4 linked regions of the Homo sapiens genome follow. The protein of the gene in region 4 purifies or fractionates together with the protein of the main gene of each other region. This does not show direct contact. Each region holds a gene or a part of one and is shown on either strand. Other genes may lie near its edges. The genes, in order: SAV1, MRS2, TRIM24 and ZNF133.

Region 1 (7,028 bases), on a different chromosome or scaffold from region 4:
CACTTTCTTGTCTAGTAATAGCAAGAAACAGAACATACAATCATGTCTGAAATAGAATAAACAGCAAAATGTTATAATTCAATTGTACATTCTGACTTAGGGGGTAGGTCTGTTATTATTTGTAAAAATTTAAGTGTAAGAAGGCAGAAGCTTTAATTATTTAATTTTCTGGACACCTATAACAAAAACATTCTGGCATTACTACAGCAGAATCTGATCATAAGAACAATGATCTTGTTTTTGAGGTTTTTTTAAAGAGAAAAGTATTTTTTTAACTTATTAAAGTCATTTATTACTAAATGTATGTCCAGAGAAAAATGTAAATTTTGAAATATAAGGCTTTCAAATCTCAAGCTTTAGGATGCTATTCTCTTAGATGAAAATATCAGTTCAAAACCTAACATTAGACAATCCCGAAACAAAAAGTTGAAAATAAAGTTGATACTGTACCTAGGAGCACAGGGATGCCTGTATTGGGCCTTCTTATTTGTGTGATCTACATAATAGGTTCCAAATTCGGATGACTCAACTCGTTCCCATCCAGGAGGAAGTCCTTCTCGCTCAAGAGGATGGCTCCAGTGAGTTGTATTTGTGTTATGATCTATATAATATTTTCTCCCTCTCATTGTCCAGTCCACAGACCAGCCAGGAGGAAGGGGTAAATCTTCAGAACCATGGTTAGTCAAATTTCCTAAAGATGTAGCAGCAACTCTCCCAATACCTACGGGGAAAGAGAAAATGATAGAGAAGAAACAGAACAATTATTCAATGCAAAAAATGTGCCAGCTAGCAAAGTCACAACATTAACTATCCTGATTGTACTCTTCTATTTAAATTCATGATTATGCCCATTATGATGGTTTTCATAAAACTAGTCGGTATTACTATTAAGGAATTATAAAAAGGGGGAGGAACTAGACTTTGAAATTAGTAGAGGGTTTTTTGGCTGATGCTTCCATCAACAGGCCATACAAACACTTAACAACAGGTTGAGCATCCCTAATCCAAAAATCTGAAATTTGAAATGCTCCAAAATCCAAAACTTCGAGAGCTGACATGTTGCCACAAGCAGAAAATTCCACACCTGACCTTATGTGATGAGTCATAGTCAAAATTCAGTCAAAACTTTGTTTTATGCACAAAATTATTTAAAATATTATGTAAAATTACCTTCAGGCTATGTGTAGAAGGTATATATGAAATATAAATGAATTTCATGTTCAGATTTGGGATCTCTTCCCAAGATATCTTATTATGTACATACAAATATTCCAAAATAAAAAAAAAAATCCAAAATCTCAAACACTTCTGGTCCTAAGCATTTTGGGGTAAGGGATAATCAACCTGTGGCAGTAAAGCTACTTAAGTATGTATACTGCCAAAAGAAAAGTGGGAAAAAGAAAATTTCCCCTGATTAAAGATTTGACATTTCAGCTTTAAAAAAAATGTAAAAATGAACTTGTAAAACCATTCCCGGTTATAAATTCTTAAAAGTAATCTGGCTGTGCCCTAGAATTATTAAGTAAGCTTAAGGTAGCAGGGTTAAGGTCACCATACAAAAATTAATATTTATATATTAACAAACAACAACTGGAAACAAAAGTTATTGAGATAATATAATTTATAATAGCTCCAAAGAATTGTGCAGGACCAATATGCTAAAAACTACAAAACACTGATGAAAGAAATAAAAAACCTATCACATTAACGGATTGGAAGATTCGACATAAAGTTAAGATGTCAATTCTCCTGAAATTATCTTTATCTTTATAGGAGTCCCCCCCTTATCCATGGGGGATCCATTCCAAGACCTCCCGTAGATGCCTGAAACTGCAGATAGTACCTAACCCTGTGTATGCTGTGTATTTTCCTATACATACGTATCTATGATGAAGTTTAACTTATAAATTAGGCACAGTAAGGGATTAACAAAAATAAAATTGAACAATTATTATAATAAAAACTGGGTGAATGTAATCTCTCTCCCTCTCTCTTGAAAGATCTTGTACCATATTCATCAATTTTCAGACTGCAGTTGCAGAGGTAACTGAAACTGTGGAAAGCAAAACCATGGATAAAGCGAGACTACTGTCATTCCAATAAAAATTCCGGCCGAGCGCAGTGGCTCACGCCTGTAATCCGAGCACTTTGGGAGGCCAAGGTGAGCGGATCACCTGAGGTCCGGAGTTTGAGACCAGCCTGACCAACATGGTGAAACCCCGTCTCTATTAAAAACACAAAAATTAGCCGGGCGTGGTGGCGGACGCCTGTAATCCCAGCTACTCGGGAGGCTGAGGCAGGAGAATTGCTTGAACCCGAGAGCAGAGGTTGCAGTGAGCTGAGAACGCGCCATTACACTCCATCCTGGGCGACGAGAGTGAAACTCTGTCTCAAAAAAAAAAAAAAAAAAAAATTCCATGGAGTTTTTGTAGATACAGATAGTTATTAAACAGATTTTAAAATGTATACTGAAAGGCAAAAGAGAACTAGAGTAGCCAAAACAATTTTTTTGAAAAAGGGATAAAGTTGAAGGACTCACACTACCTGATTTTTAAGGCTTACTATAAAGCTACATTAATCAAGACAGTATGGTATTGTCAGAAGAACAGACAAATAGATAAATGGAACCAAACAGAGAATCCAGAAGAACACCCACACAGACATGGTCAACTGATTTTTTTATAAAGGTGAAAGGGCAATAGCGGGGAAAGGTTTTTCCAACAAATGATGTTGCAACAACTGGACATCCATATGCAAAAAACCTAATCACAACCTATACCTGCCACCTTACATACAAATTAACTAAAAATAGATCATATATCTAAATTTAAAACTATAACGCTTTTACAAGAAAAAAATAGAATAAATTTTCATGAGTTTAGTTTAGACAAAGAGTACTTTTTTTTACCATGATGCTGAAAGTTCAACTCATAAAGAAAAAATACTGATTAAATTGAACTCTGTCAAGATTAAAAACGCTTGTGAAGGACACTAAGAGAAAGAAAATCAAGCTGTAAACAGGGAGAAAATGTTTGCAAATCACATTATTAGCCAAAGAACTCTGACCTAGAATATACAAAGAATTCTCAAAACTCAACATTAAGAAAACAACCCTGAGCCTGCTGCAGTGACACGCACCTGTAGTTCAACCTACTCAGGAAGCTGAGTAGGAGGGTTACTTGAGCCCAAGATTTCAGGTCTGTAGCACACTATCATCATGCCTGTGAACAGCTACGGCACTCCGGTCTGTGCAACAGAGTGAAACCCCTTCTCTCAAAACAAAAACAGAAGAAGAAAACAAAACGACCCAGTTAAAAAAAAGGGGGGTAAGAATTTTTAACAGGCACTTCACCGAAGACAACATATTGATGGTAAATAGCACGTGAAAAAATGCTCAGGATCATAATTAGCCGTGAGAGAAATGCAAATTAAAACCATAATGAAATGACAATACACGTCTATGAAAATGGCCAAAAAACCAAACAAAACCTGACAATGCAAGTGCTTACATGGATACAGAACAATTGGAATGCCCATACACTGCTGGTGTGGATGCAAAATGCTACAGTCACTCTGGAGAACAGCTTAGCAATTTCTTATAAAGTTAAACATATGCTTTTCATATGCTACAGCAATCCCATTCCCAAATATTTACCCTAGAGAAATGAGAAGTCATCTTCACACAAAATCCCATTTGTGGATATTTACAATGACTGTATTCATATTTGCCCCAAAGTGGAAATGACACACATGTCCTTTAACAGAATGGATAAACAAACTGTGGTGCAACTGTACAGTGAAATCTACTCAGGAATAAAATGGAACTAATTATTGGTACATGCAAGAATCTCAAAGATGAATCTCAGAAGTATCATGCTGAGGGAAAGCAGCCAGTCTCAAGTGGCTACAAATTGTACAGTTCCATTTTTATGAGATTCTTCCAAACACAAAACTACTAGGACAGAAAACAGTGATTGCTAGGAACTGGAGGTGAGGGACAGGAGTTGACTATAAGAGGACAACCTAAGGGAATTTTAGAGGGTGTTTGAAATGTTCTGTATTCTCATTACACAGGCATTACATGAAATCTATACATATGTTAATACTCAGAACTGTGTAACTTGAAAAAAGTTAAATTTACTATACTTTTTAAAAGAATAATCTGGCTGCATAATTTTATTCTCACACAAGAATACTAATAGTTGGCCGGGTGCGGTGGCTCATGCCTGTAATCCCAGCACTTTGGGAGGCCGAGGCGGGCAGATCATGAGGTCAGGAGATCGAGACCATCCTGGCTAACACGGTGAAACCCCATCTCTACTAAAAATACAAAAATTAGCTGGGCGTGGTGGCGGGCGCCTGTAGTCCCAGCTACTTGGGAGGCTGAGACAGGAGAATGGCGTGAACCCGGGAGGCGGAGGTTGCAGTGAGCCGAGATTGCGCCACTGCACTCCAGCCTGGGCGACGGAGCAAGACTCCGTCTCAAAAAAAAAAAGAATACTAATAGCATATGTATAACAAATCACCCCGAAACTCAGTGGCTTAAAACAAGAAGTATTTATTTGGTTCACCACAGGTTGGTGATACTGGCTGAGCTCAGTAAGTTTTTTCCTTGATATTTGGTACAAGTTATCTTTACTGTCTCATTACTTGATGAAAGTTATCTCTTGTATAACTTTCAATATGAAGCCCTACTGATGATCAGACCTCCATTTCTTCTCTGACTTAAGCTGCTATTTTTTTTACCCTTAGCTCACTCTGTTCCAGCTACACTCACCTCCTGGATGCTGTTCTCAAACACGGCAGGTACTGGCTGTTTATTCTCCCTAGAAGATTCTTCCTTCAGATATTCTCTTGGCTCACTCTCACCCTCTTCAAGCCTCTTCTCAAATGTTTCAATGAAGCTTATTCTTACTATGGCAGTCTACATCTGCTGAGCTTCTACTTACCGTTTTACTTTTTTAAAAAGCACTTTAACCTTTTAACTTATGTAATTTTAGTTTGTTTATTTACCTACAAGAATCCCACAAAGAAGATTCTTAGGACAGGAATCTTTGTTTTGTTCACAGATACATCTCCAGTCTCTAGAACAGTGTCTACAGAATAAAGCACATAGTAAGTGTTAAATAAATAAGCTGCAGTAATAAAGACAGTGTAGTATTAGTGGAGGAGATACACACATCAATGAGACAGAAACTGCATAAATATTTTCCTTGATTTTTGGACTTATTTTGCCTCTTTCACTCCCATATTTTACTAGTTCTGAAACGAAGGTGTTTTTTATAATCAAGAGAGTAAATCTGTTAGCCACTAGGCAGCAAATACAGATGTATTATCATTGCTGGTGCATGTTCTAACACAGTCCTAGGAAGACAGTATGTGGTTCATACTATTATTAATCCTCATTATTTGTAACAGTTGCACCCCAGACAAAATTTTAACATAAATTTGAATCCCTGTGCCTGAAAGGTACAAGGATACAGCATTTAAATGAAAAGTTAGTGTGTTAACAGAAGACTGCCAGTCAACCCAAGGCCCTAACTGCCAAATTTAGAATATCTCAGAATGGTCAAAATAAGAAAGACTGGGTGACCATTGAGGTGTGAAGGAGTACCATGCCAGAGCAAAACATCTACTAGTCAAAAGTTCCCAGCTGACTTTGAAGAGCTTTTAAAATTACAGTTGGCTGGAAACTAAGGCAAAATGAAAACATCAAGTTTACCTTTAAAGAAAGGCAAATGAAACAGACCCCAGTGACAAAAGGTAATTTAGAAGAAACTTTAAAATTAAGGTAAATGCTTCAATTCAAACTCAGATTCTAAAGAAGGATATGTAAGTGTATGGATAAATACGGGTTATTGGCATGTGGTTTAAGAAACTGTTTTTATTTAAATACAACATACAATGCATATGCATAAGGCTAGTCACTGCAGCAACATCTATAGTTGCAAAAGGCTAGAAATCAACCAAATGTCCAATAATAGCAAACTGGATGATTACACTATTACACGCACAGAACAGAGTACTATATTATATAGCTGTAAACATGAATGAAGATGATTTCTATTTATTGCCCTGGAATAATATTCGGGATGTATTATGTGAAAAAAGAGTCTGGACAGTACACCACCATATATACATATATGTAGTAGCCAGCCAGTAAGGTGAACCTGGGCCCCAATTATCCCTGTCCTCCTGGGATTCACACCCTTGTCTGTGTGACCAATAGTTTATGGCAGAAAGGATGGTGTGTGACTTCTGAGATTAGGATATAAAAGACCGTGCAGCTTCTGCCTTGGTCAAGTGTACTTGCTCTCTCATCACTCACCCTGGGGGAAACCAGATACCATATCATGAGAAGCCCATGAGTGAGGAATTGAGGCCTTCAGCCAGAACTGAAGCCTCCTGTTAACAGCCTTGTGAGTGAACTTAGAAGCGGATCTTTTGGCCGGGCGCAGTGGCTCACACCTGTAATCCCAGCACTTTGGGAGGCCAAGGTGGATGGACCACCTGATGTCAGAAGTTTGAGACCAGCCGGGCCAAGACGACAAAACCCTATCTCTACTAAAATTACAAATAATTAGCTGGGCGTGGCGGCACATGCCTGTAGTCCCAGCTACTCAGGAGGCTGAGGCAGGAGAACACTTGAACCTGGGAGATGGAGGATGCAGTGAGCCGAGAGCGCGCCACTGCACTCAAGCCTGAGCAACAGAGAGAGACTCTGTCTCCAAAAAAAAAAAAAGAAAGAAAGAAATGGATCTTTCAGCCAGAGCGAAGCTTCGGATAACTGCAGCCCCAGCTGACGTGTGTGAACTCCAACTTCATGAGAGATCCTGAGTCAGAATGACCTGGCTAAGCCGCTTCCAAAATCCTGAACCACAGAAACTGAGATAATAAATGTTTATTGTTTTATGCCAATGAGTTTGGAAGTAATGTGTTTTACAGCTACAGAAACCTAACACAATACATATGAAAGAGAATAATATGAATACATATTTTACATATATATGTAATTTGTATCTATTTTC
Region 2 (7,028 bases), on a different chromosome or scaffold from region 4:
ATCACACTGTGCCAGATGCACATCCAGGTTCAGTTCTAGAAAACTTACAATAAGCTATTCTGTGAAAACACAGTCAGTGGGTTCTGTATCTGCAGATATGCAAGGTTGACTGTACTGGGTCATTTTATATCAGAGACTTGAATACCCACAGACTTTGGTATCTGTGGGGATCCTGTAACCAATTCTTCTTGGATACTGAGGGATGACTGTACAAAACCACAGTGAAATGAAAAACTCTGGGAGTTAAGTATTATCTTAATACAGAAAGGCAACAGAGCAGTAGAAAGTGCAAGTCTTTGGGGTCATGTCCTAATTCTGTTATTTTTCCAGCTCTATGCCTGTGGGCAAGTTAAATGTTCTGAGCCTCAGTCTTCTCATCTACAAAGTAGGGATAATATATCTATTTTCAGAGTTGCAATGATTGAGCCAAATAAAGTATGCAAACCGCCTGGTACGTTGCCAGACATGTAAGAATTAAAAAATAAAAACTCTTCATTAACACTGCTTCACAGAGACACTGTTTTATCACACCTTTCCCATCTGTAATTATATGTTTTGGGAAACAAAGTAACCTAGGCTGTATTTATCTAGGTTATAACATGGTCCAACAGTACTGCCTGAATTGTGAGTTACATTATATATTTTATTTCACCATGGTAGTTTACAGGTTAGACTTTTTATTTATTTATTTTTTGAGACAGAGTCTCACTCTGTCCTGTCGCCCAGGCTGGAGTGCAGTGGTGTGATCCTGGCTCACTGCAAGCTCCGCCTCCCAGGTTCATGCCATTCTCCTGCCTCAGCCTCCGGAGTAGCTGGGACTACAGGCGTCTGCCACCACGCCCGGCTAATTTTTTGTATTTTTAGTAGAGACAGGGTTTCACCGGGTTAGCCAGGATGGCCTCGATCTCCTGACCTCGTGATCTACCTGCCTCAGCCTCCCAAAGTGCTGGGATTACAGGCGTTGAGCCAAGGTGCCCAGCCTTTATTTTTTAAATCCATTAAAAATATCGATCTTCAAAACCCAATCTTTTTTTTTGGAGACAGAGTCTCACTCTGTCTCCCAGGCTGGAGTGCAACGGCGCGATCTCAGCTCACTGCAACCTCCGCCTCCCGGGTTCAAGTGATTCTCCTGCCTCAGCCTCCCAAGTAGCTGGGATTACAGGTGCCTGCCACCGTGCCTGTCTAATTTTTGTATTTTTAGTAGAGACAGGGTTTCGCCATGTTGGCCAGGTTGGTCTCAAACTCCTGACCTCAGGTGATCCACCTGCCTCAGCCTCCTAAAGTGCTAGGATTACTGACATGAGCCACCATGCCCGGCCAAAACCCCCAAGTTTTAGAAATAATAATACATTCTCACCTCTTCAAGGGAAGATTCCAAATTCATTCCAAAAGCAACTCCCATTAGTCCAAAGAGCGAAAGAGAGAAGGTTCCCATGGTCAGCTGTAGATTCAACCTCATCATCACGTTTCGGTGGCTGGAGAGGAGAACACCTATTCAGATTAGAAGGGCCCACTAACTATATACAGCACATTCATCAAATCTATACAGACCACATGGATGAAACCTACACAACAAAAAAAATAATAATAATGTAGTATAGATGATAATGATGGCGTAATTCCTCACAAAATATTTCCTTAAAAACTTTCTTATAATTATTTTATTAAAAAAACTTAGTTTTATATAATGCTTTCTTACCTGTCCAGATTAATGAAAATAATACTTTGTGAATCATCAATCAGCACCCTAAGCTCACGAGCTGCATTGGAGAGATCGTCAGCCAATCGGTAGTAGTTTTCCAACAGCAACTCCATCTCTTCTGCATGGTCAATCCCAGCACTGCTCTTTTCACTTCAATTAAAAGAGAAAATAATTAACATACTCCCAACATGTGTATCATATACTTAGTGACAAAAACTTCCTAAATTAGTATATAGCATTCAGCTACCAGTGGAAAAGCTAGCCTTTGTCTTGTCTTGTCTTTTTTTTTTTTTGAGATGGAGTTTCACTCTGCTCCCAGGCTGGAGTGTAGTGGCGCGATCTCGGCTCACTGCAACCTCTGCCTCCCAGGTTCAAGCTGTTCTCCTGCTTCAGCCTCCCCAGTAGCTGGGACTACAGGTGCCCGCCACCACGCCCAGCTAATTTTTGTATTTTTAGTAGAGATGGGGTTTCACCATATTGGACAGGCTGGTCTCGAACTCCTGACCTTGTGATCTGCCTGCCTCGGCTTCCCAAAGTGCTGGGATTACAGGCATGAGCCACAGCGCCTGGCTGCCTTTGTCTTTTCTATTGTTGTGGCCAATCTGTGAGTACCTATGTCAACTGATCCAAAACACTTTACAGATGAGTTGAGGACAGAGGTTCCATCCTTATGTAGACCAGTTGGTGTCACTGTATTACATGGCCCCAATCCAAGAGATTTTTATGCAGATACATGCTGCCAGTTACAGGAAAATCCAGATATGTGAATGCAGATGAATTAGTGCAAAGCCAATACCACTATCAGGTAAAACAAAATCCACAACTAAAAATGTCAAGACCATTTCCTTTTGAGGTGTGTACATAATGTGATTTCATATAAAGAAAATGTTTTTGAATGATATCAGTAATAACTTTGCTCCCCTACCCTACCAAGAAGGGTAAGGGGGAATGAAGTACTCTGAAGAGGTACCTGTATCATAAAGCATATTAGAGACAGATTGACAGATTGGCCTAAGCAAAGCAAACAGTTTCTGCTACCATACCTATCGGCTATCTACCAAATGTTATATAGCCCCCTTTATCTTATTATTTCCTTATCAGGATATAAATAACCAATTTTTCAAAGTGCTGTAAGAAAATCTGTACAGACTGTGGAAACTAAACTCATTACAAAGGTGTATTAATTTCTGATACTGCTCTAGAAAGACAATAACAAAATATTTGGGTATTTAAAAGTAAACATTTAGCTGGAGTGTGCACAAGAAGCATAAACAATTTCTAAATTCATAAAAGATAAAAGGTTTATAAGATTAACATTTTCATTAGACTGAACTTACATAATCCATGTTAATGTGTTACTCGTGTATTTACCCCATCTTTTCCCTCCCCCATGTAAATTTCTCTCCCACTCTGCTTCCTAGGTAAGTTATTTTGGTAGATGTATATGCCAATCTGGTGGTCAGTCCCTTGAATATAAAGGTAACTGTGTGTTTATATTCACCACATGTCAGCAGTGTTGGGTATGCAGTATGCATACTCATAGAATTACATTGAATTAGATACGATACTGCACAGGAAAAAAGGGAAACTGGGGATGAAAAATCTCTATATTCTGTAGTCCAGAAAAATGTTACATTCTGTATGAAAAATCACCTTGAAGTGGAAAAGGCAAAAGATTTACTCTAAGGAAATAAATAACAAAGTATAATTATATACTTACAAGACTTGTGGGTCACTCCATTTTGATACACAGAGCTCTTCTAGCAACTCTTCCTCATCCAAGATCTCCAAAATTGACTCTTTGAAAATTTTAATATCTGTTTCTAACTCTGATAGACTATAAGAAATAGATACACAAAAATGATCAATAGAATAAACTTATAAGAACATTTCATAATAGTGTTTTTAGAGTATCTTATCAAATATATTATCTTATACATTCATGCTAAACAATGACTTATTTAAAAAAAAAAAAAAAGTTGAGTATTTACCAGGCAAATTAAGAATCAATTTGGCCAGGCATGGTGTCACGCCTGTAATCCTAGCACTTTAGGAGGCCAAGGCAGGAGGATTGCTTGAGCTCAGGAGTTTGAGACCCTCCTGGACAACAGTGAGATCTTGTCTCTACAAAAAAATTTAGAAAATTAGCTGGGCATGGTGGCATGTGCCTGCAGTCCCAGCTACTTGGGTGGTGGAGGTGGGAGGATTGCTGAAGGTTAAGGCTGCAGTGAGCTGAGACTGCACCACTGCACTCCAGCCTGGGCAACGGAGTGAAACCCCGTCTCAAAAACACCCACAAAAAACCCAAACCAAGGCTGCAGTGAGCTGAGACTGCACCACTGCACTCCAGCCTGGGCAACGGAGTGAAACCCTGTCTCAAAAACACCCACAAAAAACCCAAACCAGATCTAAATTAATTGGTAAAATTATCAGTGATATAAATTTCATCATACATTACTTATCTCAGAAACATAAATCGCTTGTGAATTTAAGATTTTTGGTTTGGGAATTTTATTAATCAACATGGCAGTGATAATATAGAACAGACTAGTTACTCTTAACTGATAAAAACACTCCAACATTTTTGGATAAGAAACTACTGATTCAGGAATTTTAAATGTTAATTCTTGAAGGGATTTCGGGAGTATAACTCCTGAGAGCATGTTTATTCTATTTATGATACATATATAATATTGTTATTAAATTCTGGAATGCATTATGATTTTAAAGAAAAAGAACAACATGGACTTTGAATTTGGATTTAGATCTGCCATTTACTAGCCATATAAATTTAGGCAAGTTACTCAAACCTCAATTTTCTCATCTTCAAAATGAAGACAATATCAACTATTGAATGGGTGATGAGATGAGATCACATACGGAAAAGAGCCTTACATGACATTTCATGCAAAGTATCTTTTCAACAAACAGTAGATTGTGTGCCCCTTTTAGCTCAACTTCCCACCTAGGCTACTTTCATACTTTAAAAAAAGTTATGAAACAAAATGTTAATAATTGATTTTAAGATATTTGTCTCCAACTCCCAATGTGATACATCATCCATATTTACCTTTTGCCATTCTGTAGTAAAATGTGCAGTTTGCTTCTGTCTACAGAAGAATGTTTGGGGTCCACCAAAGCATCCAAGGTCTCAAGGATCAGTGGCTGCAAAATGCTAAGTTTCCCCTGAAGGGTGTTGATCTAGATAACAACATGACCTTTCATAAGAATTAAAACAATCTTTTTAGAATATTCAGGATCAGTGAATCCTCTGATTAAATACAGAAATCTGTAGTAGCTTGAAATGCTGGTAACATTTCAGAACATAGATAATTCTAGAATGCCTATTCCAGATGATTCAAAAACTAGATCCTCTGGGTTCAAAGAACTATGTATGATGTTATCTTTAGGCACAGATTTGGTTGACAAGGAGCTAACTCTCGTAAGAGTCTTTCTCCTCCCGCCCGGCCAGCCGCCCCGTCCGGGAGGTGAGGGGCACCTCTGCCCGGCCGCCCCGTCTGGGAAGTGATGAGCCCCTCTGCCCAGCCGCCACCCCGTCTGGGAGGTGTACCCAACAGCTCATTGAGAACGGGCCACGATGATGATGGCGGTTTTGTCGAATAGAAAAGGGGGAAATGTGGAGAAAAGAAAGAGAGATCAGATTGTTACTGTGTCTGTGTAGAAAGAAGTAGACATAGGAGACTCCATTTTGTTCTGTACTAAGAAAAATTCTTCTGCCTTGGGATGCTGTTAATCTATAACCTTACCCCCAACCCTGTGCTCTCTGAAACATGTGCTGTGTCCACTCAGGGTTAAATGGATTAAGGGCGGTGCAAGATGTGCTTTGTTAAACAGATGCTTGAAGGCAGCATGCTCGTTAAGAGTCATCACCACTCCCTAATCTCAAGTACCCAGGGACACAAACACTGCGGAAGGCGGCAGGGTCCTCTTCCTAGGAAAACCAGAGACCCTTGTTCACATGTTTATCTGCTGACCTTCCCTCCACTATTGTCCTATGACCCTGCCAAATCCCCCTCTCCGAGAAACACCCAAGAATGATCAATAAATACTAAAAAAATTTAAAAAAAAAAGTCTTTCTCCTATAGACATTCATTATGAAGTAATGAGGGATCAAGTAAAATAAAATCTGCTATTATTAAAACACAAGCTTTCAGTAATACCTGTGTTCTCTGTAAACAGAATATGGTTCAAAATTCCTACAAAGCTCTTTGAAAATAAAAACTTGAGCTTTAAAACATAAACATATCAGAGTAAAGTCAAAAATAGACTATTTAGGTTAACACAAGTATGGTTTGATATTTGATATTCGGCAGGTATGCACTAATCCTGCTATATAGTTGTTAAAATACTGAAACACTTCCATGCCAGTTGGCAAATAGCATATACTAACTAAATCAAGCGGTAAAACTGATGACGTAAATTACAGCATATAGTCTTTATCTCAGAAGCACAATTACTGTGAAACAGATTTTTTTATTTGGAAACAAGTCCAGAGTCACAGTGCCTCTGCAGACATGTTGTTTATTTCGTCTCCAGAGGAACTGCTTCCGGGTTAAGAAGTCCTTGGGTGGGAGGGAAGACTGGACAGCCAAATAGGCAGACCACATCTTTTAATCTAAGAGATATCAAACCCTCTGCTCAGCAAGGTGTGGACTTTTGTAGTGGTTGGGGAGGCTGCTGAGGGTCACAGATAGGGTATTTGTGAGGCATATCTACTCATGGTATGTCTTGGTCCCTTAGGTGGGTTTGGGGAGCTTTCCCTTGTTCGAAAACTTATCCCTTTTGAGAGGTGGCTGGTCTTGCTTCTATGTAGTGTTGTTTCGTAAGGAAATCTTCCTGGGACCCCATTTAAAGGAAGAAGAATGTGTATCCCAGCAGACATCCTGAACTCCCTCTCTATTCTCCCCACAGCCAATCTCTAGGCCGGAGACCCATGCCAGCCTAGCCTCTCTCCTTCCCCTCCTGCTCCCTTTAAGATCCCTGTCTTTCTCCTAACAGCATGAGCTCCTGAGAGCTTACCCAGCCTGTGGAGCCCATGACTTACCACTGTTTACATCTTCTTTCTCTCTTCTGCTTTCCCCCTGCTTGGTAACTGGGCTCCCACTACTTATCATCTCACTGGCTGGTGCTAGCTGGTGCTCATTAATTACCCCAAGCAGGAAGTGTAGCCATCTATTCTTTCAGAGCAAGGCAGACAAAAGAAAAGTGTGCCAGGTTCACCCAACCCAATGCACCTCATGTCCTCTCTACCCTCTCTCCTCCTCCCACTCTGGTTAGTATGCTCCCAGCACCAACTCTTGCATGT
Region 3 (7,028 bases), on a different chromosome or scaffold from region 4:
GCACACGCCTATGCTCCCAGCTACTTGGGAGGCTGAGGCAGGAGGATCGCCTGAACCCAGGAGGCAGAGGTTGCAGTGAGCCAAGATCACACCACTGCACTCCAGCCTGGTGACAGAGAGAGACTCCATCTCAAAAAAAAAAAAAAAAAAAAAAAAAATTATACTTGTAGGAGGCAAAAACAAACAACAGAGTCTGCAGTATCGAAATCCCATGACCTCTAGGGCAGCTGTGTACAGTTAAGATAGGTTATACAGTACAAGGAACTGCCTGACTGGAGGGGAAATGTAGACTTACAGGCAAATGGGGGTCCACATTCCACTTCCTAAGGCACACATCCTTTGGTCCTGTATGTCAAGAGGACTCTTAATTTCTAACTCACACAAATACCATTTGGGCTTGAGGCAGCCTTAATCCCTTCTCTCAGGATACTCCATACAGCATATGTGAAATGTAGCCATTTGACATGCTTATTCATGTGACTGTGACAAACTATATATCAAGTACTTTAAAGCTCAATTTCTGAAAAGAAGTTCTAATGTCTTCCCTCACCTGAATGGATATTTTATTGCATATGTGGTGTGCCACACCACATTACAGAATAAAATATAATGGCACTTAGTCATGCCATTTTGGAGACTACTGGTCTAAGTGTGTATTCAAAATGCTGGAGTAAAATTAAGAAAGGGCTCGGCAGCTCACACCTGTAATCCCAGCACTTTGGGAGGCTGAGGCAGGTGGATTACCTGAGGTCAGCAGTTCAAGGCCAACAGGGTAAAATCCCGTCTGTACTAAAAATACAAAAAAATTAGCAAGGTGTGGTGGTGTGTGCCTGTAATCTCAGCTACTTGGGAGGCTGACGCAGGAGAATTGTTTGAACCGGGGAGGTGGAGGTTGCAGTGAGCCAAGATGGCCACTGCACGAGACACTGTCTCAAAAAAAAAAAAAAAAATTGAGAAAGGGGTCAAGGTTACATTGCAGAAAGAAATTTGAAAAACTTGTGCATCTAGTTGATAGTTTAACTTCTTGAAGAAAAATTAAACAGAGAAATCTAGAGACCTAAAAATGAAAGTTTACAAATTACCCACATTTGGGTATATTTAAAAAGGTACAATGAAATTAAAAAGCATTCTTCTGACATCAGTTTTCCACCAGGAATAGAGTAACTAGTACTGAGACAAGCTTTCCTGTCATTAATTACTGTATATTACCAGGACAGATACCTTAGGCAACTTTTCAGACAATGGACAAAAGGCAATGCAGTACTGTGATCCATGAGGAAAGAAAAGCTCAGGTGAATAAGCCCCCTAAATCTTGATTCCCTAACTGAGGACTATTTTGTGATCATGGTTCATGGAGCTACAGCCAATGCAGAACATAGCAAAGGAGCCAGAGAGATTCGGGGATTGTGAACCAGATGGAATATATAGGGCAAAGCACTTGGGAGAAGGGAGCTGAACAGAGAAAGGGTGCCAGTAGTCTATGTAAGGGTTTTGCCAAGTCCTTGGCTGAAGGCTACTACGCATGTGCAGAGCAAGTCCATGGGAAGTTTACCAGAGAGCAGCTGCTAAGGGATTGAGAGAGAAGCAAAGATACTGGAGGCCAAGCAGGAACAAAGAGAAAACAAATAAAAAGATGTCAGTCTTAAACCTTGCCATACCAACAATTACATAAAATATAAATGGATTAAACAAAAGCAAAAATTAAAAGCTGGGATAAAAAAGTAAGACAACTATACGCTATCTACGAGATACTTTAAAAAGCTAGAAGTAAAAGCATGGGAAAAATATACCATTCAAACACATAGATTAAAAAAACAATGGCATTAATATCAGGCAAAGTAGACCATAACATAGCATTATAGGAAGCAAAGAACATTTCACCTTAAAAAAGGGCAGGCAATTCATAAAAGCTTCAAAATACCTGTAGCAAAACCAAGTGAGGTATATCTCAAGAATGCAAGATTGATTTAACATCTAAAAATCAACGTAATTCATACATTAACAAAAAAAGGAGACAAATTGCATGACCATTTCAATAGACACAGGAAAAGTACATGGCAAAATTCATCACCCATTCATAATAAAAATTCTCAGCATATTAAAAATAGAAGGGAACTTCTTCATTTTGATAATGGGCATCTATAGAAAACAGCTAACATATTAATGGTGAAAAATTGAGTGTTTTCCTCCTAAGATGAGGAATAAGGTAAGGAAATCCTTTCTCATTTAATACTGAAATTCAACTTCTAGTCAATATTGTATTGGAGTCCTTGCTGGTGCAATAAGAAGACATAAATTATTAAGAATAGAAAGCAAGAAGTAAAGCTATCTCCCTGTAGACTACATAGAAAATCCTAAGGAGTCCTTGAAACAAAAAAAAAAGATACTTAATAATCGAATTTAGCAAGATAATGGGATGAAACCAATAATCGTATTTCAATATACTACCAACAGTTTGAAATGAAAATTTTAAAAATATCATATACGATATCATTTAACATTATAAAATGTTTAATATTTATACTATGTAAACAAAAATTGTACAAGAATGCTACAATGAAAACCACAAGACAGTGCCGAGAATTTAAGAGATAACACATATTCACAGATTGGAAGAACCAATATTGTTAAGAACATTATGGCTGGGTGCAGTGGCTCACGCCTGTCAATATCAGCACTTTGGGAGGCCGAGGCGGGCAGATCACCAGGTCAAGAGATCGAGACCATCCTGGCCAACATGGTGAAACCCCGTCTCTACTAAAAAATACAAAAATCAGCTGGGCGTAGTGGCGCATGCCTATAGTCCCAGCTACTCAGGAGGCTGAGGCAGGAGAATCACTTGAACCTGGGAGGCGGAGGTTGCAGTGAGCAGAGATCACATTACTGCACTCCAGCCTGGTAACAGAGCAAGACTCATCTCAAAAAAACAAAACAAAACAAAACAAAACAAAACACATTCCCCCTTACCCAAATTGATATCTAGATTCAATGTAATTCCAATCAAAACCATGACAGACTTTTGTGTAGAAACTGAAAAGCTGATTCTAAAATGTAAAGAAATGCAAATGACTTCAAAGAATCATAAGAATTTTGAAAAAGAACAAACTGTCAAATTTCAAAATTTGCTGAGAAGAGTACTGTAATCAAAAAACATTATGTATTAGCTGAATGGACAAATCAATAAAGAACAGACCACACACAGATGGCTGATTTTTGTATAAAAATGCCAAAATAATATAATGAAAAAGTACTGTCTTTAATAAATGGTGTTTTAACATACAGTTTTTAAAAAAATGAACCTCAACCTCACACAAAAAATAACTCACAAAATGGATTACAGGTTTATATTTTAAAGCTAAAACTATAAAAATGCTGGGTTAAAAAGTGGAGAAAATCTTAGTAAACTTGGGGTAGGCAAAAAATTGTTAGATAGGACACAAAAGTCATTAACCATAAAATAAATTGATAAACCAGACTTAATCAAAATTTAAACCTTTAGCTCTTCAAAAGACACCAAGAAAATGAGCATGCAAGCCAGAGTCAATACCTGCAATACATGTATCTGACAAAGGACCTAGATATAGAATATATATAAAGAACTTTACGTTTCAATAAAAAGGCAAACTCCCAGCCAGGCGTGGTGGCTCACGCCCATAATCCCAGCACTTTGGGAGACGAGATGGGTGATCACTTGAGCTCAGGAGTTGAGAGACCAGCCTGAGCAACATGGCGGAGGTTGCAGTGGGCTGAGATGGCGCCACTGCACTCCAGTATGGGCAACACAGTGAGATGCTGTCTCCAAAAAAAAAAAAAAAAAAGCAACTTAAGTTTTGAAATTTGCAAAAGACAAACCAAAATCTCACCAAAAAAGAATGACTACTAAGCACAAGAAAAGATGCTCATCATTATTCATCAGAGAAATGAAAACCAAAACCATGAGATAGCTTTTCTCACCTACTAGAATGGTTAAAATTTAACAGACTGACAGGCCAGGCACAGTGGCTCACGCCTGTAATCCCAGCACTTCGGGAGGCCGAGGCGGGTGGATCACCTGAGGTCAAGAGTTCAAGACCAGCCTGGCCAACATGGTGAAACCCTGTCTCTACTAAAAATACAAAAAAATTAGCCAGGTGTAGTGTAATCCCAGCTGCTTGGGAGGCTGAGGCAGGAGAATCGCCTGAACCCTGGAGGTGGAGGTTGCAGTGAGCCAAGATGGCACCACTGCACTCCAGCCTGGGCGACAGAGTGAGACTCCGTCTCAAAAACAAAAACAAAAAAAACTTTTAAAGACAATACCCAAAACTGGGGAGAGTGTGAACAAACTTTGGAGAGAACTGCTGGAGGGTCTATAAAGTAGTACAAGCAGTGTAAACATACATTTATCATAAAAACAAGAAATTCCAATTCTAAGTTATTTCCTCAGGGAAATGACAATGTATCCACACCAAGACTTTTCTACAAATACCTTTAAGTTTTATTCATAATAGCTCCAAACTAAAAAATACTGATACCTACTAACAGGTGAATAAAAATATGTATATTTTTATATATATAGGACTGACAGGTAACACAGATCATTCTTAAATATTAATCCTTTGCCATTAAAGATTGCACTCATGAGATGATTTATACTTTTTGCCAAGAAATCAGTCCCAGAATAGTTACGTATCTTGTATACTGCCAGTTAGTAAAGAAATCTTGGAAAAGGGATTTAGTCTTATATTTTAACCCTCTCTAGACAAATAATACCTTTCAAAAGTATGTTCTCAGTATTTGTTAAAAATAGCTCTTCAATATTGTCTTTTAGGTAGAGAGGAAAAAACTGCTCTCAAACTCCCAGTTTGCTACTCATTAGCTGAACAGTACGTTAACAACACAAAATACTACACAATATTATAACATTTCTCTAAGATCAGTTTGTTTTCTTAACATACGTAAAAGAAAATCCATTTCCTAAAGTTTTGCCTCTCTCCTAGATATAACTGCATACTAAGAAAATGACAGTCAAGACTGAAGGAGTCATCCAATTTTAACTTGTGGTCATTCACCCTCATTCCTTCCAACATGTAGCCTGAGAAAAAAGGACAGTTAAACCGAAGTTTTAAAACAAATGTTCTCAATGGGAGCTTGGTGGCCAGTGTAATTGTATCTGAGCATTTATAAATTATACTTTTCTGCTGTTATTTGCTTCATTTTATTTCTCCTTTAAAACAGTTCAAACATTATGTTTACTTTTGTAAGAAAAATGTGTTAGGATTTTTTTTCCCCATGAAATTCATTTAGGATGACAAAGAGAGCATGAAAAGTATTTTATAGAAAGGGAAACTAGATCTGAAACAGTTTTAGAATACTGCTTGCATTAAAGAAACAATTCTAGAGTGTAACTGTATTATACCCTAGCATTCTGCAACTACGCCAGATTAGGTAGAATCAGATTTTCAGGAGGGAGGGGCCTAAAAATCTAAATTTTTTTTAGGTGTTAAAGTTTAGTGGTGTTAAAGTTTGAAAATCTCCAGTTTTTGAAATCTAAAAAGTGTATGAAATATAACATATTTGGCCTCAACAAACCTATTGTTTGGCCTATAGCATGGGCCCATAAATTAATTGTGTGTGTGTATATATATTTATGTGTATAAATATTCACACATTTTTAATTAGTTGACAATATCTAATACTAGAAAAATTTTGTTCAAAAATCCAGATTCAGAATTTGCATTAAATAAATAAAAGATCCTTCAATACTTGCCCTGCACTCACATGACAAATTGCTATAGCTAAGAAGAGTCTGCCCCCCTGCTTGTACTCCCCATCATTTCCTACCATTTTACCCCAAGGCTCACACAGTTCTCCATCCCAACTACCTATTTAACCTTTGTGTAATAGATATTACTTGACTTGTGATGCCTGTACTCACAAATTCAGTAGGAAAATGAAGAACTGGTTTGATCAAATGAACCCGTTATTTAGTTAAGCAATGTCTAAATTTGGCTGGCTGCGGTGGCTCACACCTGTAATCCCAGCACTTCTGGGGGCCAAGGCAGGCGGATCACAAGGTCAGGAGATCGAGACCATCCTGGCTAACACGGTGAAACCCCGTCTCTACTAAAAAATATAAAAAAATTAGCCGGGCGTGGTGGCATGTTCCTGTAGTCCCAGCTACTCAGGAGGCTGAGGCAGGAGAATGGCCTGAACCCGGGAGGCAGAGCTAGCAGTGAGCCGAGATCGCACCACTGCACTCCAGCCCGGGCGACAGAGCGAGACTCCGTCTCAAAAAAAAAAAAAAAAAAAAAAAGTCTAAATTTTTGCTTCAGCTAGTATTAAAATAAGTATGCAAGGAGAGATAAAGGGACAAAATACCCAAGTCACTAAGACTCAGGATAGCATTTTTAATTTTTTAAAGATAACTTTAATTCTTTTTAGGTGTACTTTTAAGTACAATTTGTTAAAACGTTTTTCCTAGTATAAAAACAAAAACATCTTCCAATTTAAACGCTTTCTTTGAACTCTTGCGTACAATACAGCATAAAGATAAAAAATATTCAGATTGTAATTACACAGAACATTTTGAGAAGTATGGAATCACAAACTTGTCTCAGAATTGAGGATGATAACTTTACGACCCATGTTCTCATTAATTCAAGTCCATATGTCATGGCCAGGCAAACAATATGTCATAATTCTATAATCATGCACAATTCAGATCTTAATTGGCTACAAGCCTGTTTAACCATTTAAAATATAAATGGAAGAGGACGGGTGGGGTGGCTCACACCTGTAATCCCAGCACCTACAGAGGCTGTGGCAGGTGGATCACCTGAGGTCAGAAGTTCGAGACCAGCCTGGCCAACATGGCAAAACTCCGTCTCTACTAAAACAAAACACAAATTAGCCAGGTGTGGCGCCCAGCTGAGGCACAAGAATCGCTTGAACCAGGGAGGCAGAGGTTGCAGTGAGCTGAGATTGTGCCACTGCACTCCAGCCTGAACGACAAAGCGAGGTAGGAAGGTAAGAAGGTAGGAAGGTAAGAA
Region 4 (7,028 bases):
GTTCACAAATGCCACTGGCTGGATTGAGACAGGGATTTAAAAGTCTTGGAACACATGGCACCAGGGTCACTGGGATCTTGATATCTCACCTGCCTCCCCCAGGGCAGCCTTATCCCTGCCCCTCACCCTGCCATGGGCAAGGCTGGCTTCTGAGTGAGCAGGGCTCAGTTTTGTGTTACAGGCACACATGGCATTCAGGGATGTGGCTGTGGATTTCACCCAGGATGAGTGGAGGCTGCTGAGCCCTGCTCAAAGGACTCTGTACAGAGAGGTGATGCTGGAGAACTACAGCAACCTGGTCTCACTGGGTAAGCCTGATATCTGTTAGGATTCCCATTCTTATTGCTGGGAATTTTAGGCTATGCTTGAAGCAGCCATCTTGCTTTGTTACTTGACCTTTGGGTTGGACCAAAAAGCAACTACATTTTATTCGTGTTTCCCCAGGGAGGGTCTGATTTTGCAGAGTGGAAAATGGGTAGATTTGTTGTGTGTGTGCATATGTGTATTGTGTGTGCTACTCTGCATTTCTAGGCCTTTTTTCTCAGGCTGGGGTTCTCATCCTATGTTAACTTGTTTTAAATGAGAGGGGTGTTCATCTACTCGGCATGGAATAGAATCAGTGTACTCTCATCTGAGTTCACTGCCCACTCATCCCTTCCATTTCTGAGAGCCCCACTCACCTCTTCCAACTCAGGGCTTTGTACTACCTTTGAAGTTTCCTAGGCTGTTTAGCTTTGAATTCTTGAATGGGCTCTTGAGCCCATAACCTAGTTACTTATTTTCTTTTCCTGTGAGCAGGAATTTCATTTTCTAAACCAGAACTCATCACCCAGCTGGAGCAAGGGAAAGAGACCTGGAGAGAGGAAAAAAAATGTTCACCGGCAACCTGTCCAGGTGAGTGGGAAAACACTGGACAAATGAGACATGAGCTCAGCAGCTCAGAGGACTGGGGGAGAGGAGGCGTTGCTCAGGTGCTGGGGAGGGAAGCTGTTCCCCTGACCTCCTGGGCTGCTGTTTAGATTGCCTGACACGGCCTCCCTTCCAGATCTCCATCTTCATTCGAGTATGGACGGGGCTTTCCTGGTGTCTCGTCTCCTTCCTCCACTAGGAAGCCTTTTTTCCTCCCAGTGGGTTTCTCCTCTCTAGCTCACTCAGTTCTCTTTCATATATATGGGCTTCTTTCTCTTGTTACTGTTTTTTAAAAAGATCATCAAGAATATGGAAACAACTGTGACCTACAGAAAGAAGGCAAGCCCAGTGGGAGGAAGAAATCTAAAAAGCCAATAGAGAAATTGAAATGGAATTCTAAAAAAAACTGTGAGCTATTCAAGAATGGCTTTTACATTTTATAATGTTATATAAATATCTATATAATATCCTTAATTTTGCCTCTTAACCATCAAAGCCTGAACTATTTACTATCTTTAAGAAAAAGTTTGCTGGCCCATGCTCTAAGGGAGTACAATACATAGCCTTAACTTTTTATATTCTATTAATACTTAATCTGGGTAAAATATAAAATGTAAGAGCATTGCAATTACACAGTTCCAATCACCCCCCCTCCCAACATCCTTTGTACTATAATTGTCATTTGTATTATACACTCCTTATTACAATGTTAAAATGTTTGTTTTAAATGTTCATCTGGATTTGTTTTCTACAATGTATTTTTTTAATTAAGAGAAAAAATAGTCTTTAACTTATCCAGATAATTTATCATTTTCTGTTCTTTTTGTTTGTTTGAAAATCCGAGTTTACCTTTGGTATTATTTTTCTTGAACCTTAAGGACTTCATTTGGCATTTCTTATGGTACAGGTGGCAGTGTATTCTCTATTGCTTCTGAAAGTGTCTTTATTTTACCTTCATTCTTGAAGTGTATCTTCGCTCGATGTAGAATTCTACATTGGTTATTTTTTCAGCACGTTAAAGATAGCATTCCATTGTTCTGCCTGCCATTGTTTCTGATGGAGAAGTCACCATGAACATAATTTAGCTTTATTTCCTTTGGCTACTTTTCTCCATACTTTTGGTATTCAGCAGTTTCACTGTGATGTGACTGCCTTAAGTACATTCTTCCTTTACATGTTTTTATCTGCCTGAATCTCTCTGTCCCCTTTTGGGACTATAGGCACATGTATATTAGTCCTTTTTATATAATCCCACAGGTTATAGATCCTTTCCATATTTTTAAATCTTTTTTTTCTCTCTGTTCTTTAGACTGGATGATTTCTGTTGGTCTGTCTTCAAGTTTACTGTCTCATTTGTCATTTCCAATGTGCTAAGCTCTGGCCAGTGAATCCTTCATTTCACTTATTTTTCAGTTCTGCAATTTCCATTCACTTTTACTACACTTTTCTTTGTGGTGAGATTTCCTATCTGTTCACTAATTATAATTAAATTTTACTTTATCTTCTTTAAATCAGACACTAAGTGGATAACTTATTAAGTGAAAAAGTTATAGGATTTTGTATACTATGCAGTTGAGTTTGTTGTTAAACAAAGAGAAGTGTATGAAAGAGTATATATCCATATGTTTATGTGAACATAGAAGTCTGTTGTTATTTACCATTACTAGTGGTTACCTCTGTGGGGATAGAATTGGGGAGGGTTGGACAAGGGGCTGCTGAGAATTTTTCATCCTACTTTGCATTATTTTTAAATGACAGACACATAGATAACTTTAAGAAATTATATATGTGCTTTAATTTTTAAAATTCTTTTGACAGTTTTATAAATGTTTGCACAGAAGTATATATTTTCTTTTTCTGGGTAAGAAATTTTCTCCTCTTGTTTTTATTAAATTGATTAATTCTGTCTTCAAATTGAGGGACCATAGCATACATAATATAAATTGTCGCTGTTTTTCAACTTGCTTGTATCCTTACTGTTCATCTGTTAGAAGGAATCCTAAAGCTCTCCACAGTCGTAATTTATATCAACTTCTCCATTTATTTCTAAGTTTTTGTGTTATATTTCACTTTATTGTTCTATTAGGTATAGAAAGGTTCAGGATATTTTTATCTTACTCATTAATGAAGTTTTTAATGCTGAAATTCTCTTAGTTCCATGAGCTATTGTTTCCTTTAACTTCCTCTTTATTTCTTTTTAGTCTTAGCACTGTACTTTCTGGTGCATCTTTTTGGTATTTTATTGTTCATCCTTTTATTTTAAAATAAAAACATTGTCATTTGGGTGTTTTGCTTTTAAGCAGCAGCATGTAGCTGGTGTTGCATTTGCTGTCAAACCAAGTGGTGTTAACTTTTAATAGTGACTTTACTTAATAACAGATAAATTTCATGAGACTTGCTCAGGGGTTGACTGAGGCAGATGAGTAGGTGTTTTACTACAGCAATAGGAAAGAAGGAAGGTCAGGGCAAAGGAAGTAAAGCATCTGTATTAGTCACCTTGGGCCGCCATGACAAAATACTGTGGACTAGCTGGCTTAAACAACAGAAATTCATTTAGTTATAGTTCTGGAAGCCAGAAGTTCAAGATCAAGTTGTCAGCAGGTTTGGTTGCTCTGAGTCCTCACTCCTGAACTTACAGATGGCCACCTTCCCCCTGTGTCTTCACATGGCCCTTTCTCAATGCTCACACATCTTTGTCGTCTCTTCCTCTTCTTAAAAGGACACCAGCCCCATTGGATTAGGGCCCACCCTTACGACCTTATTTAACCTTAATTACCTCTTTAAAGGCCCTGTCTCCAAATACAGTCACATTAGGGATTACAGCTTCAACATAAGAATTTGGGGGAAACACAACTCAGTCCATAACAGCATCCTTGTGAGAGCACCATAGTGATTTCATAGACTCTCCGCCGAATATATAGTTCCATAAAAGGTCAGTTGGATATGTAAGTCCATTGGATCTCAGTTGTATGAAGGAGTAAAGATGAGGGACTGGTGTATAAGCTGAAAGGTCATGGATTGGAGCCCCAAATAAGGTCAGGAACCAATGTGCCCATGGTGCTTGAGCAAAGTGAGTCAGAAGGTAGAAGAAAAGGCTGTGTCAGAGAAGGGAATGTGCACAGGAGAGAATGTGAAGATTGTGCAGTGTCTGTGAACAGCATTCACAGTGCAGGTGAGGTCAGTGTTGCTGAGAAGTTGGAGTCTTAGCCAGAGGCTCAGCCCTGTGGAGCACCCTGAGAGTGCTGACAGGTATTGGTGTGGAGAGGATGTGAGGCTGGTAGGTGATCAAATATTCAGGGCAGTGTGTGAAACCAGGAGACCTGTGGATGGTCCTAAAAAAAGTATGGTAGGTAATGGTGTGGAAGCCACATTACAAAACAAGGACATTCATCCCACTGTGTAATGCTTGAGATATGAAAGGAAGAAGCTGTCTATCTACTTGAGGGAATCTTACAAAAATCTTCCTCTCAAGGAACAAGAGAGGTGTCTAGCCAAGGACATGGAAGGAATGTTGGACAGAGAAGGAGAGGATGTAGGGGCATTATCTGACCTGTGTGTTCATTCTAGAATTGGCAGGTGGAGGCTGGGAAAATGCTATACACCCTGACCTTTGTACATTTACACAAATATGTGTTTTCTCAACCTGAAAAGTATAGAATTATCAAAACATTTATATTAATAACAAGCAGCTTACCTATCATTGTCTTAAAGCGAAACCTATCTTTTTTGTCTCGTTTTTAATCCTTGTTTTAATTTAAAGAAAAACAGCAGCTCTTACAATGATGTTGAGCACATTAAAAAGAATGCTGTACAATCCAAGGAGCAAGTCATTGTGGTTGCCCAGGAAGCTGTCTTGGAAACCCAAAATATATGTGTAACGGGAGGAAGACTGTTCTAGGTATAAAATACATCTTAACGGTTTCATTATTCTATATTTGGGACTTGGATTTAAGACAGGCAATATCAGAATCCTCAAAATAGGCTAGTTACAAGAAAAGTATTTAATTTTCTCGGCTGTTTCATTAATCAGAATGCTAATTCAATAAATGTAACGGAATCATTTGCAACAACATGGATGAACCTGGAGGATGTTATGTTAAGTGAAATGAGCCAGTCACAGAAAGACAAATACCACACAATCTTACTTATATGTGCAGTCTAAAAAGGTTGGACTCATAGAGAAAGAGAATACAATGGTGGTTACTAGGGGATGGGGGTGGTTGGGGAAGATGTTGGTCAAAGGATTTTCACATAGAAAGAATAAGTTCAAGAGATCTATTGTATAACATGATGACTACAGTTAATAACAATATATTGTATTCTTGAAAATCACTAAGAGTAGATTTTGGGTGTTCTCATCACAAAAAATGATAGGTATGTGAGGTGATGCAATATGTTAATTAGCTCAATTTAGCCATGTCACAATGTATATATATTTCAAAATGTACACAATGAATATATACATTTTTTGTCAATTTAAAAATTAATTAGTTTTTTAAAAGTAACAGGAGTTACCATAATTATGAAGAATTATATGCCCTCCTGAAGTGACTAATCCTTGTTATTTATATTGACTAAGAAGCCTGGTAAGAGGTAACACAGAAGCCTAAGAATGAGAACTAAAGCCAGGTGCTGTGGCTTGCACCTGTATTCCTAGCTACTCAGGAGGCTGAGACCAAGGCAGGAGGATCACTTGAGGCCAGGAGTTCAAGACCAGCCTGGGCAACATAGCGAGACTCTGTCTCTAAAAAAATTTTTATAATTAGCCAGGGTGAGGTGTTGTGTGCCTGTAGTCCCAGCTACTTAGGAAGCTGAGGAGGGAGGATTGCTCGAGCCCAGGAATTTGGGCTACGTGATCTATGATTGTACCACTGCACTTCAGCCTGGGCCACAGAGTGAGATCCTATCTGTAAGAAATTTAAAAAATAAAGAATGAGAAATTGGATATCTGGTGAGGTAAAAATAGAGCTTTTATTTCTAAGTTGAGTATACAAAAGACAAAAATTAGTTATTTTTCATATGGAGGACAGAAATACACCAAGTTATAATTCTTTTTTAGTTACCAGTATTATTGTCAAGTTTAAGCTTTTTTCTGTTTATTGGCAAGCTAAATAATTGTACATGTTTTTAAGCATATATAGTGTTGATGGACGGTATTTAAAGTTTTAAGTTTCAGTCTCAAATAATTAACATAAGGCTGATCTCATTAGTTTAGGCAAAAATACAAGTAAAATTATTGCATGAGAACACTTTGTATAGTTTTGTTTTTGAATTTTTTAACAAAAATATTTATTCTTATAATGATTTCCTAACAGAGATCTTAGAAATTGAAAAACAACTTAATCAGTCTTAAGTTAAAAACTGCCTGAAAAATATGCCATTTCTGGTATTTACTTTGAGTAAAGTAATTGTAGATTCACGTAATTTCTGGCACTGTCTGTAAATTATAAGATACTAGTTGGACACATATATCTACATGTGCCTAATCTTACATATTTATGAAGGCAATATTAGCCTATCTGATTTTTAAAATCAGTATAGGTTGACTCTCCCTTATCCAAAATGCTTAGGACCATAAGTGTTTCAGATTTTGGGTTTGTTTGGTTGGTTGGTTGGTTGGTTTGCATTTTGGAATATTACCATAAACATAATGAGATATCTTGGGTATAGGACCCTAGTCTAAACAGGAATTTCATTTATGTTTTGTGTACACCTTGTACACTTGGCCTGAAGGTAATTATATTTTTCCTTTGAGGATGCTGAATAAACTGAATTTTATGTGCCTGTGTTTTGACTATGACCTGTCACATGAGATCAGCTGTGGAATTTTCTACTTGTGGCTGCATGTTGGTGCTTAAAGATTTTCAGATTTTGGAACTTTGCAGATTAGGGATGCTGAACCTATATATTAGTCTTGGAAGTTTAGATTAGTTAAACTTTCTTTGAGAAAGCCTACATATCAGAACCAAGTTTTATATCACTAGAATATTATGCTAATGTTATGTTTACACTGATAAAATAAGGGAAAAGACATTGCATTTGTCTTATTTGCAGGCTTTATCTTACTTTGAAATATTGATTCCACCCTTTAGTTACATACCAGCTAGTAAGGTTGTTTA

What was found.
Region 1: the proteins of ZNF133 (region 4) and SAV1 purify together in Homo sapiens (affinity purification with mass spectrometry; 2 studies listed by BioGRID and IntAct, with this or other methods). This does not show direct contact.
Region 2: the proteins of ZNF133 (region 4) and MRS2 purify together in Homo sapiens (affinity purification with mass spectrometry; 2 studies listed by BioGRID and IntAct, with this or other methods). This does not show direct contact.
Region 3: the proteins of ZNF133 (region 4) and TRIM24 purify together in Homo sapiens (affinity purification with mass spectrometry; 2 studies listed by BioGRID and IntAct, with this or other methods). This does not show direct contact.

Annotation. Positions count from the first base shown.
Region 1 is NC_000014.9:50,644,294-50,651,321, forward strand, and holds part of SAV1 (protein salvador homolog 1), read right to left. Parts: intron 5,097-7,028; coding exon of another isoform or gene 5,014-5,096; intron 722-5,013; coding exon 451-721; intron 1-450. UniProt on the Homo sapiens protein: Regulator of STK3/MST2 and STK4/MST1 in the Hippo signaling pathway which plays a pivotal role in organ size control and tumor suppression by restricting proliferation and promoting apoptosis.
Region 2 is NC_000006.12:24,412,908-24,419,935, reverse strand, and holds part of MRS2 (magnesium transporter MRS2 homolog, mitochondrial isoform b precursor), read right to left. Parts: intron 4,921-7,028; exon of another isoform or gene 4,904-4,920; coding exon 4,773-4,903; intron 3,540-4,772; coding exon 3,423-3,539; intron 1,853-3,422; coding exon 1,700-1,852; intron 1,476-1,699; coding exon 1,358-1,475; intron 1-1,357. UniProt on the Homo sapiens protein: Magnesium transporter that mediates the influx of magnesium into the mitochondrial matrix and regulates magnesium metabolism. Also permeable to calcium, sodium and potassium ions.
Region 3 is NC_000007.14:138,463,254-138,470,281, reverse strand, and holds part of TRIM24 (transcription intermediary factor 1-alpha), read right to left. Parts: intron 1-7,028. UniProt on the Homo sapiens protein: Transcriptional coactivator that interacts with numerous nuclear receptors and coactivators and modulates the transcription of target genes.
Region 4 is NC_000020.11:18,305,500-18,312,527, forward strand, and holds part of ZNF133 (zinc finger protein 133), read left to right. Parts: intron 1-168; exon of another isoform or gene 169-181; coding exon of another isoform or gene 182-187; coding exon 188-308; intron 309-771; exon of another isoform or gene 772-798; coding exon 799-894; intron 895-1,206; coding exon of another isoform or gene 1,207-1,317; intron 1,318-4,669; exon of another isoform or gene 4,670-4,779; coding exon of another isoform or gene 4,780-4,807; intron 4,808-5,861; exon of another isoform or gene 5,862-7,028. UniProt on the Homo sapiens protein: May be involved in transcriptional regulation as a repressor.